2 separate regions of the Homo sapiens genome follow, and region 2 is linked to region 1. Evidence: fine-mapped expression QTL. A gene starts in region 1. The other region holds a variant in brackets. All regions are shown on one strand. Distances are from middle to middle. Region 1 holds the start of SYN2 (synapsin II). Region 2 overlaps SYN2 (synapsin II).

Region 1 (5,377 bases):
CCTGTCCCTAGCATAATGGCTTGCATGTATTAGGCATGAAAACACGTCTGTTAATTGGTTGATTTTAAAAATATATGCATATACTATAAGCTTAACGGTTGGGGAAATTACTTACTGAAATATTATTTTAAAAAACCTATCACCCCCAAAATTGAAGTGACACAGTGTCTGAAATCCCTTCATTAGAGATACATGCCTTTGATGGCCGGACGTGGTGGCTCATGCCTGTAATCCCAGCACTTCGGGAGGCTGAGGCGGGCAGATCACCTGAGGTCGGGAGTTTGAGACCAGCCTGACCAACATGGAGAAACCCCATCTCTACTAAAAATACAAAATTAGCTGGGCATGGTGGTGCATGCATGTAATCCCAGCTACTCAGGAGGCTGAGGCAGGAGAAATGCTTGAACCCGGGAGGCGGAGGCTGTGGTGAGCTGAGATCGTGCCATTGCACTCCAGCCTGGGCAATAAGAGCGAAACTCCATCTCAAAAAAAAAATTTTTTTTTAAGAAGGGCAATAATTAAGTTTATTTAATTATGTTATTAGTGACTTATCAGTTTTATTCTCCAATAAACACAAAAACCGAGTTGGGTAAGATTACAGTTCAATTCTCAAACAACTGAGTCCTTATTACATGCCAGGTCCTGTGTTTGGTGTGAAGCCCAAAGATAACTAAGACATAATCCTGTCCTAGAAAAGCTTACATTCTAGTCACCAGAATATTGTATGATAGTTTCTTTGGGGTCTATGACAAAGCCAAGCACAGGATATGGAACACTTAGCCCGCCCTGGAGGATTGACGAAAGGCTTCCTGGAGGAACCATCAACTTACATACCTTCTCCATGCCTTCTCTGGCTGCCTGCCTGCCTGCCTTCTTCACTTTTCTACTGGTAAACATAGCTGCCTCAAGATCCACCTCAAATGTCACCTCCTCTGAGAGGCCTTCCTAAGTCTCAGAGGCAGAATGAGTCCCTCCCTCCTTAGGCCTCCTAACCCTCTTTGCCCAACTGTATGATAGCATTTCTCACATCTTATGTGGTTCCTGTGTCTATCCTCCCTCCATCCCCCAGCCCACATAGATCATGAACTTGCAATAGACAAGAGCCACTTCCCATTCATTTCAGCCTTTCCAGCTCTTACCACTGTGCCAAGCATGTAGTAGATAGGAAGACCACTGTGTTATTATAGTTGACTGGAGACTTCTCTGATAGCACCGGCTCAGAGCTGGATTGTGTATCTCTAGGCCCTGAGTTGAGTGCCAGCTGGGATACAGGAAGCAAGAACTGCCCACCAACATTAGTGACAAGCCACTCCCTGACTCCATTCAGCCCAGTACATACTTACTGAGAACCAATTGAAAAAAGAATTCAGGCATCACTACTGGAATACCTACTGCTGTGTACCAGATGCTTTACATACATGATCTCATTTACTCCATGTAACAACTCTGGAAAGGGTTACTTATTCCTTTTTATCAGCTAAGGAGAGAGGCTCACAGGGGTTATTGATCCAGGGTCACATATCACCCGGGGTAGTCTGCTGTAAAGCCTATCTGCTGTGTCCTGCTCCATTACAACACAAGGGAAAGTATATCTAATGAGAGATGAAAACTAAAGGTCCAAGAGTCACGCAAGATTTAGAGAGTGCACATGGGAAGGTGGCCATCAGAAATGTCTTCACAGAGGTCAAGGCAACGAATAAAATGGAAAAAACAAGTAGAAAGATCTTGAAGAGATGTCCTTCTTGGTATAGCACTGGATGCATCAATGCATGCTAGGAAAGAAACACGGTGGGGTTGGGGGATCCTTAGATATCCCTCTTGGGGTGGAGACCATGTCTCCAGTCTTCTCTTGGTTTTCTCTCACTGGTCAGTGAGGAGGGGGAGAGAAGTACATACTGTTGTTGTCCCTAGAAGTGCAGGAGTGAAAACACACCCCACCCCTCCTTCCATGACAGAGTAGAGAGGATCTGTTTCTCCCCTTTCCTCTCCCTCGCCTTGGAGTAAGGAGGCTGCCTTCCTCCCTAGAAGAGGTATTTCTTTTTTGTCTCACCATAGGGTGTGTGTGTGTGTGTGTGTGTGTGTGTGTGTGTGTGTGCGCGCGCGCGCGCGCGTGTGTGTGTGTGTGTGTTAGTAACAGCGGATTATTCCCTTCCCCCTCTTCTGGGGGCTGGGGAGATGACATCTTTCTCCCCAGCGTTGGGAAAGGAGGTGGTTCTTTTCCTCCTCACTACAGGGTGTTCGTGCTTGTGTGCGTGTGTGCGCGCGTGATTGGGATGACTCCTTTCGTTCTCACCTCCGCATAGGGAGGCTGACACCTCTTATCCTTCCAAAAGGAGTGGGGTCGGTTTCCTTCGCCTCCATTTCAGCTGGGACACGGCTCTTTTTCTCTCCAACCAAAAAGATGGTGGGGCCTCTGGTTCCTTTTCCTTCCCCTGGGGAGAAGGCCTGGCTCCCACGCCCTCCCCGCATAGTCACGCTCAGGTTGCTGGAGGCCTGGGTCGCCCCCTCCTGCAAGCCCCGAGAGTCGCCAGACGCGCGGCTAGGTGCCCTCCGTGAGCGGGGCGGGGCCGCCTCTGCGGCGCGGGGCGGGGGCTATCTCTGGCCCCGCCCCTGCCCCGCCCGCTCCCTCTCCGCGAGCCTCGCGCCGCGCGGGTTGCCTGGCCCAGACCGCCGCTGCTGTCTGCGGGGTCTGGTGCCGGGGCCTGAGTCTCTGCTGGCTAAGCCGCCGCCTCAGCCGCCTCAGTCGCCTCAATCTCGCCTTCCGCCCTCGCTCTCCCTCCGCGCCACCAGACCCCGTAGCCCCGCGCGCCCCCAGCCCTTTAAGCCAGATGATGAACTTCCTGCGGCGCCGGCTGTCGGACAGCAGCTTCATCGCCAACCTGCCCAACGGCTACATGACCGACCTGCAGCGGCCCGAGCCCCAGCAGCCGCCGCCGCCGCCGCCCCCCGGTCCGGGCGCCGCCTCGGCCTCGGCGGCGCCCCCGACCGCCTCGCCGGGCCCGGAGCGGAGGCCGCCGCCCGCCTCGGCGCCCGCGCCGCAGCCCGCGCCGACGCCGTCGGTGGGCAGCAGCTTCTTCAGCTCGCTGTCCCAAGCCGTGAAGCAGACGGCCGCCTCGGCTGGCCTGGTGGACGCGCCCGCTCCCGCGCCCGCAGCCGCCAGGAAGGCCAAGGTGCTGCTGGTGGTCGACGAGCCGCACGCCGACTGGTAGGTGCCGGGCGCCGCCGCCCTCGGGGGTCGGGGTCCGCCGGCAGCCGCAGGCCAGGAGAGGACGGTCCCAGGTCGCCGAGGAAACGTTTCAGACCAATAAAAAGGAGGGTCCCCGAGGTCCCGCTGGGAGGAGGTGCGGGCTGAGCGCGCGCGCGTTTGCGGGGTGAGGGAGGGCATCCATCAGCCCGGAAAGGCGAACCCAAAGCTAAAATACCCCTCAATTGCCCCAGGTCCCCCAGGTCCCATACAAGAAGGAGCTACTTTATGCAACAGGAAAGGCCCTTAGGAAATAGTTTTTTTGGGGGTAGAGGAGGGGACACACTTGTTAGCTTAGACACATAAAATCTGAAGTGAAATAGTCCCAGGAGGCCGAAGGAACATTTAGGGCCAGTAAAAAAGGTTTAACTTCATGAAGCACGGAGTGAATTTGGAATGGAAATTGGTATTTTGGAGGGAGAAGGTGGTGGTGGGTTTTTTTTAACCAGGACCCATGAAGGCTGATATCAAGTATTGACATCAGGTTGATGAAATCACACATGTAGTGGCCCAGGTGTACACGGGCTTGTTCCCCGGAGCATGGCTGAAGTCTCTTTATGAATAATAAAATTGTTGTATTTTGTGCAGCAGGGAGGGGACGTGTGGAATTTTTTTTTTTTTTTTTTGATTGCTTGTTTTTCTGAAATGTGCGTGGTGGGGGGCGGGGCGTGGAAGTGAATGGTAGCTTTTTCTAGCTGAAAGATGAAGACCTTGGTAAAATATACTGGATCATTAAAGGGGTACAAATAAAAGGAGACCTGCCTTAATGTAGTAGATGGGAAACTTCAATAATTTTTTTTTTCTTCTAAAGAGATAGGTAGCATGTTTCCAACTTAGAATGGTGAAGGCTGCTGCTTGGTAAAAGTACGAATGAGGTCCACTGAAGACAAATTAGTTAAAAGCGGCTCTATTTTATAGTTAACCTAGGGAATGGTGGGATGGTGAAATTGATAGGTGAAGGGCTTGGAGAAATGAAGAGGCCGAGAATCTGGGGGTGCCTTTTCTCCAGGAATGTGAGCAAGGGTTTTGTTTTTTTTTTTTTCTCATAGGGGTTGAGGTTGGAGACTGGACCTGAGTGTTCTTCCCAGGAGGGGTGCACAGAGAGACCACAGAGCTATTTCTCTCCATTTCCTCTTTTGGCTGCTTCACTGCTTTCTCTCTCTAGCATTCTCTCTTTGGGAGACCCAGAGGGAGGGAGTGCTGGCGTGTGGGTGTGGTGGAAATGAGATGCAGATGTGGAGATGCCCTCCTGCTGGCTGCTAATGTCACCATTCTGAATAGTCCTTTGGGTGACTTATGTGGTTGGCCTTTTCAAGAGAGTAGAGTAGAAAATCCGAAAGGACTTTTGCCAGGAAATGACAAAGGCACATGGAAGAGGGTAATGGGGAAAGTGTAATGCATATGATAGTGCCACTGGCAGCCCTCCTTAGAATTACTCTGACTCAGTTCATATCAACAAGTGCTTATTACGGAGGAAGGGAAGGTAACCAAGCTAGTAAAGGTGCTCAGTCAGAGCATCCATTATATGCCAAATGCTGTACTCTCAGCATGATATCTCATTGCATTTTCTTCACAAAACTGAGGCTTAGGAAAGGTAAGTAATATGTTTACAATCATGTAGCCAGCAAGTGGTAGAAGCAGGATTTGAACTTAGGCCTGTTTGACTCCACTGCTTTCATTCCACTGTGTTATATTGCCTCACTATTATTATTAGCAATATTAATAACAAGCTCCCTCTAGGCAGTGTGGGGGCCTTTTAAGAGAACTCACTCAAATTGGGACACAAAGTGGATACATGAAACAGTTAAAAAGAAATCTAGAATTATTGGTTGAGACTAGTGTTTCAGGCAGTCAACAAATGGAGTGGTTAGTGAGAGCCAGAGTTATTGGAGAAAGCTTCACAAAAGATGAATCTTGAAGAAAGGCCAAGAAAAGGAAGAGGAGAAATGAGAATGACATTCGTGCTTTATTTTTCTGTGCAGGAATTTGACCCTTCTGTACCTTGTCCTGATTTCTTATCCTATTAAATGCACTTGTTTTGAGTCTTATTGCCAGTTAGGTATCTATAGATAGGTACTGATACTTATTTGTATGGGTATGATGAAGCTGCTGCAGATTTCTGTTTAGTTATAA
Region 2 (5,377 bases), 140 kb after region 1:
CAAAGATACCGTGAAGAAGCCCTTATAGGTCTGTAGGCTCTGCCCTTGGCCATAGGCTGCAATGATAAAAATGTCTGTTTCTTGCCTCCTAGAATGATTAAACTTTTGGAAAGGCCTGAGCCCAGTGACAACCAAGGGAATAGTCCAACTCAGGTAGTGACAGAGTCCTACCAAGTGGTTCAGCAACCTGAAAATGAAATTTATCCTCATGCATGTGAATCAAATACTTATGAGCTAGAAGTGTCTTGGAGATCATCAAAGCCTAACCCTAATTCTGACCTTAACCTTTCATGATAGAGATATGAAAATTAAAGAAGGAAAGTAAGGTGTAGAAAACTACTTACTATAGGATGCCAGTTTCTGAGATTTTTCTGTTAATTTCATTTAATCCTCACCTTACAAGGAAGATATCATTATTGTCACTTTTTACAGAGAAACAAAACCCAAAAAGGATTAAGTAACTTGCCAAAGTTACAGTGCCAGGATTTCTCTACATCCCACTGCCTCTCCCATAGATTGAGGCTCCTATATAAGGAGGAAACTGTTCTGGTTTTCTCTTCCTTGGCCAATTTGGAAATCTAGGAGGGCAGTGGAAACTTTTAGGCAGATAGAAAAAGTGGGGCTAGGAGGGAGAGTGACTTATGATGGCTTTGGGGGCACTCTGGCTTCCCCTCCGACCACTGAGGGGACCCAGCTCCTCTGCTGGCTCTGCTACTTCAGGCTGGCCCTCTCAGAAGGTAACACCTACCCCTAATCACATCCTCATTGGCTTGCAGTATGCAGGCCTCCCCTGCATCAACTCACTGGAATCCATTTATAACTTCTGTGACAAGCCATGGGTGGAAAGTGAGGCCCCCTTCCCCCAGGTAAAAGGCTAGGATCCAGACCCTGCATCTTCCAGGCCCCTAGGAGGGACTTCTGGACCCCAAGATGCAGTAAGCCCTTCTTGTTTTGTAAAAATGAAATTTCAGCTGTCACACGCCCTGGATTGCCAAGGTTCCTGGAACTTGTGTCTAATTGTGAAGTTTCCACGCCTTTACACCACTCAGAGAGCTGAAGAGGGGTGTGTGTGTGTGTGTATGTGTGTGTGTATGTGTGTGTGTTAACCAAACAGATCTGTCACTTCTGATCTTGATCTTTTTTTTCACCCTGGAACTAACAGCTTTCTTTTTCCTTTTGAAGCCAGGGAGAGCTTGGAGTGTAAGAAAAAGATCAATGGACAAGTAGTCAGGAGGGCTGGGAGCTGCCATGGTTAAGGAGGGGGTTGGGTTCCCAAGCTCCACTTGTTCAGCCTTTCCTTCTGCGTGGCCTGAGGCATCTGGAATCCTAGATTCTGCAGAAACACGCTAACAGAGTGTGATTTTAGTATGTTGCCAATCACAGAAGAGCATATGTGAGACCTTTACCAAGTGTCTTTTTTGTGGACCTCCCCTTTCTCCTCAGTCACATGTCCTTCCTACGGCACACGTGTCCTAACCCACGTGCACCCCCGGTACTTGTCAGAATTTGACTCTCTCCTAGCCACACAGGGTGATCCTGCTATTAGCAGCTTTTTCTGGGTGATTTCACTGCTTATCAACTCTCTGACCGAACCTGTGCCCCAGTTTCTTCATCTACAAACTGGGAATAATAGTAGCACCTGCCACCACTTTGACAGCCTGGTTGTTACAGGCTCCTAGTGTATGGGTTCTCTTAAAGAAATTTGTGGCCAGACGTGGTGGCTCACGCCTGTAATCCCAGCACTTTGGGAGGCTGAGGCAGGCACATCACGAGGTCAGGAGATCAAGACCATCCTAACTAACACAGAGAAACCCGTCTCTACTAAAAATACAAAAAAAATTAGCCGGGTGTGGTGGCAGGTGCCTGTAGTCCCAGCAACTTAGGTGGCTGAGGCGGGAGAATGGCGTGAACCCGGGAGGCGGAGCTTGCAATGAGCCAAGATCGCACCACTGTACTCCAGCCTGGGCGACAGAGCGAGACTCTGTCTCAAAAAAAAAAAAGAAATGTGTTCCCTGTTTTCTTTTCCTAAACTGTGCCAGAGGCCAGGGCAGGAAGAATGGGGAGAGCCTGTGGCTAGGGCTTTGCTCCTCCCGGGATCTGGGATCTGGTGAGGGGTCACACTCTCACCCATTCACAATCTGAGCACATTGCCTTGGGCCCTGCATGAGGAGAACAGCAGGGCTCCCTGGCCAGACCCCAAGTTCTCCCTTCAGTTTCACAAAGCAGCTGCCACATGAATGACGTTTTACATATTGTTCTCTGCTAGTTCATGGGAGTGGACAAATTTGGTGACTGTGAGGGGAGGGTCCCTTTCAGCTGATGACTTTGGGTTGTGTTTCTCA[A/G]TATCTTTACTATGACTGCTGTTGGTGTGAGGAGATACTTTGATTGGGTTGGAAAAGGCTCTGCCTTGCACAGCTGTGTCTCTGAGCACATTGCTGTCTCTGAAGTTGGTCAGGGCAAGCCACTGGGATTTGGGGAGCAGAAGTGGACCTGTCAATGAAAGCAGCATTCCAGACAAAGCAAGAATGGCACCACCGTTTATTGCTGCCAGTCTATCTGAAATTCCGTGAGTCTTTCTGGGTTTTTGGAGATAAGTGCACCAGAGTTAAATTAAATCATTTAATTTCCAGGAGTGATAGGCATAGGGACACATTACTCAAATGGATCTGGAATCCCATTTTTTTCCAAGAAATCTTTCTTGATTCATTGGATGAGTGGCTATAATGGACATATCTTCCTATTAATTGCCAACAGCACCCCCAGCTCCCAAATTCATTCTTTTGTCTATGTGTAGAGGTAACAGCCCTTATCAGATGTTACATTTGTTTAATTGGTGACTGTGTGGCTGTGATTTAATCTAAGTTTCCAGGGAGCTATGGGTTAGATGCCAAGCTCACTACCTTGAGCAGACAGGGACTGCTGGAGAGGAGGGTGGGGTGAGCTCCCTGAGACCCAACGAGAGCCTGGGAACTGGCTGCCATTATTGTGTTGGCTGTCCCAGGGCTCTGGGAGTCTGCCACAGGCTGTCCTGGCATCTGTGTGGTGTCTGTGTAACTCCCCCACATGCTGGAAAGGTAGGGCCCCACATGTCTTGGTGCCATGCCAGAGCGTGGGCTGCAGCAGGACAGAGGTCGTTTGGCAGAGCTGGCATTAACTCCCTAGGGATGCTGGAGAGCCTTAGGAGCACAGGCAGGTGTCCAGAGGCAGAGCAGAAGTCCAGCCAGGCCCAGATGGGCAGGCAGGACGTAAAGGTCAGATGAGCAGGTGTGGAGAATCAGAGAAGGCAGGAAAGGTCTGAGGGTTCGTTCTTGACAGTTAAAGCAAATTGAAGGACCAAAGTCGGTGAGGACAGCAGGGTACAATGGTGAATGCACCCAGCAAGGAGAAGAGACCTGAGTGCTCTTGCAGTGCAGCCCTGACTCCAGGATGTGATCCGGGAGCCTGCACTTTCCTTTGCTCTCCAGCCTCAATCTCAATTTGTCAAATCAGAGGGCTGGCCTAGAGACTCTATAAAGTCCCTTTTGACAATGGTATCTTAGGGGCTTGAGGGTCCATGAATCATCCTTTCAGTCCTGGAGGAGGCCCTAGAGCTCTAGAGTCACCAATTGTTTGTCACTAAAGGGAGGGACCTAGGAATTCCAGTGTTTTCCAGCATTTCAAAAATAACAAAATCATATCTATACCTACAAAAGGACCACAACAGATGATCACTTAAACTACAGTTTGATAGCAGAGTTTGGGAGGAAATATAATAAAGAGATATTCTTTATGGTACAAAGTTTGAGGAACTGATCAAATTTAACCATCTCATTTTATATATGAAGAAAATGAGATCCAGAGAGGAAAACTCATTTGCCCAAGGACACCTAGGAAGTTAACAGAACAAGAATCAGAAGATTCCAGTTTTCTAACAACCCAGTTCCGAGCTTTTACTGCCCCAACCTCGTCTCCCCTCCCTGGCTTATGTGCCAGTATCGCTTGTAGAGAACAGGACCTGAGCTGTTGAAAAATGTTCTAGCCTTCCTTTCTCTGATAAATAGATTTCATCTAGCAGCTTTCCCTTCTAGCCATGCCAGATACCAGTGGCTTCGAGTGTGAACTAATCCAGTAGCCCTAGAGAGATGTGTTTCCTCTGCTGCTGATGCACTGGGGATGGGAGTGTAGGTGTGTATGTGACTGGATTGAGCAGGAAAGTCCTGTATTTCCTGTGGAAAGGGCATAGTTTCTACAGAGCCTGAAAGGCAGCTACTTGCAGGAATAAGGAGAGTTATGGATTGGAAATGAAGGGGCCTTGCTGTGAACCTGGCTCAACTACTGTGTGACTTTGGGCAAGTGACCTCTCTGGGCCTCAGCTTCTTCATTTATAAGATGGAGCGGGGTGGGGGAGCCCAGGTGTGCACTAAGAAAGCCTTTCAACCCTGACACTGTAAGTATGTGTACTTTGCCCCTTCCCCATGGAGCTATTCCAGTTTCTCATATGTAGGCAAAGGGTCCAGTAAGTTCAGTCCCTCGTTAGGTAGTAAGTCCCAGAAAGACTGGGCCTGTCTATCCCACATACCATGACCATTCTAATCTTCCTGAAGAACAGCTTCATTTTATGATGCCTCCTGCTCAAATTCTTGGTGATTCCATACTGCTTACTGGAAAAATCCATCATTCCTTTGCCTGACGTTTGAACTTCCAAGACTTGGCCCATGTCACCTATCCAGCTTCATGCCTTGCGATCACTCAGAGATGCAGGTGTGGAAAGTCAGAGACCCAATTTTTGATCCCAGCTTCACCTTGCAGTTCTGTGACTATAGGCAAGTTTTGTATCCTCTCTGGGCCCCATATGTAAAATGAATATGATAAAATACTAGTTCATCAATTTGATTTGAAACATCATTACAATTGAGAAAGGTAATTGAATTTTAGCTCACTCTCTTTCCCTTCCCCAACTAATGCGTATCATATCCTTGGAAATAGGAATTGTACACTTCTTTTATATCCTCACAATGCTTAGCATAAAGTCCTCCACAGAGCAAATGCTCAATAAATATTTGATGAGTTGATGTTTCATCTGTTTCAGAAGTTATCTAAGATAAGCTGTAACATTTGCTTTTCTTTTGCAGTTTGCCCAGCTGGTCGCTATCTATAAGACACTGGGAGGAGAAAAGTTCCCTCTCATTGAACAGACATACTACCCCAACCACAAAGAGATGGTAAGTGGCTCAGTGGGGACATTAGTCTTTCTGCTGTTTTCATTTTGCACTTAGCCACCTGGTTATTGTGGGGCTCTGAAAAGGGCCTCAGCATCTCAACCCCAAAGACTCCACTGGGGTTGAACTATAGAGCTTATGCGGCTGGAATAACTAGATTTTAGCTGACAGCCTCTTGT

The links. PIP is the estimated chance that this variant, and not a neighbour inherited with it, causes the effect. A credible set is the group of variants that fine-mapping cannot tell apart.
Region 2: its variant is the best candidate, but not a certain one, in a credible set for the expression of SYN2 in esophagus mucosa (GTEx, PIP 0.69).

The regions. Positions count from the first base shown.
Region 1 is chr3:12,001,724-12,007,100 of GRCh38, forward strand. SYN2 (synapsin II) reads left to right here and starts at 2,665. Exons shown (of 13, transcript NM_133625.6): 1 at 2,665-3,205. The coding sequence starts at 2,829. RefSeq lists an enhancer at 3,364-3,864.
Region 2 is chr3:12,146,126-12,151,502 of GRCh38, forward strand. SYN2 (synapsin II) reads left to right here. Exons shown (of 13, transcript NM_133625.6): 5 at 5,112-5,201. Among named protein-coding and RNA genes, the nearest start is that of TIMP4, 10 kb to the right of the region's middle. The variant A/G (reference allele first, on the strand shown) is at 2,343.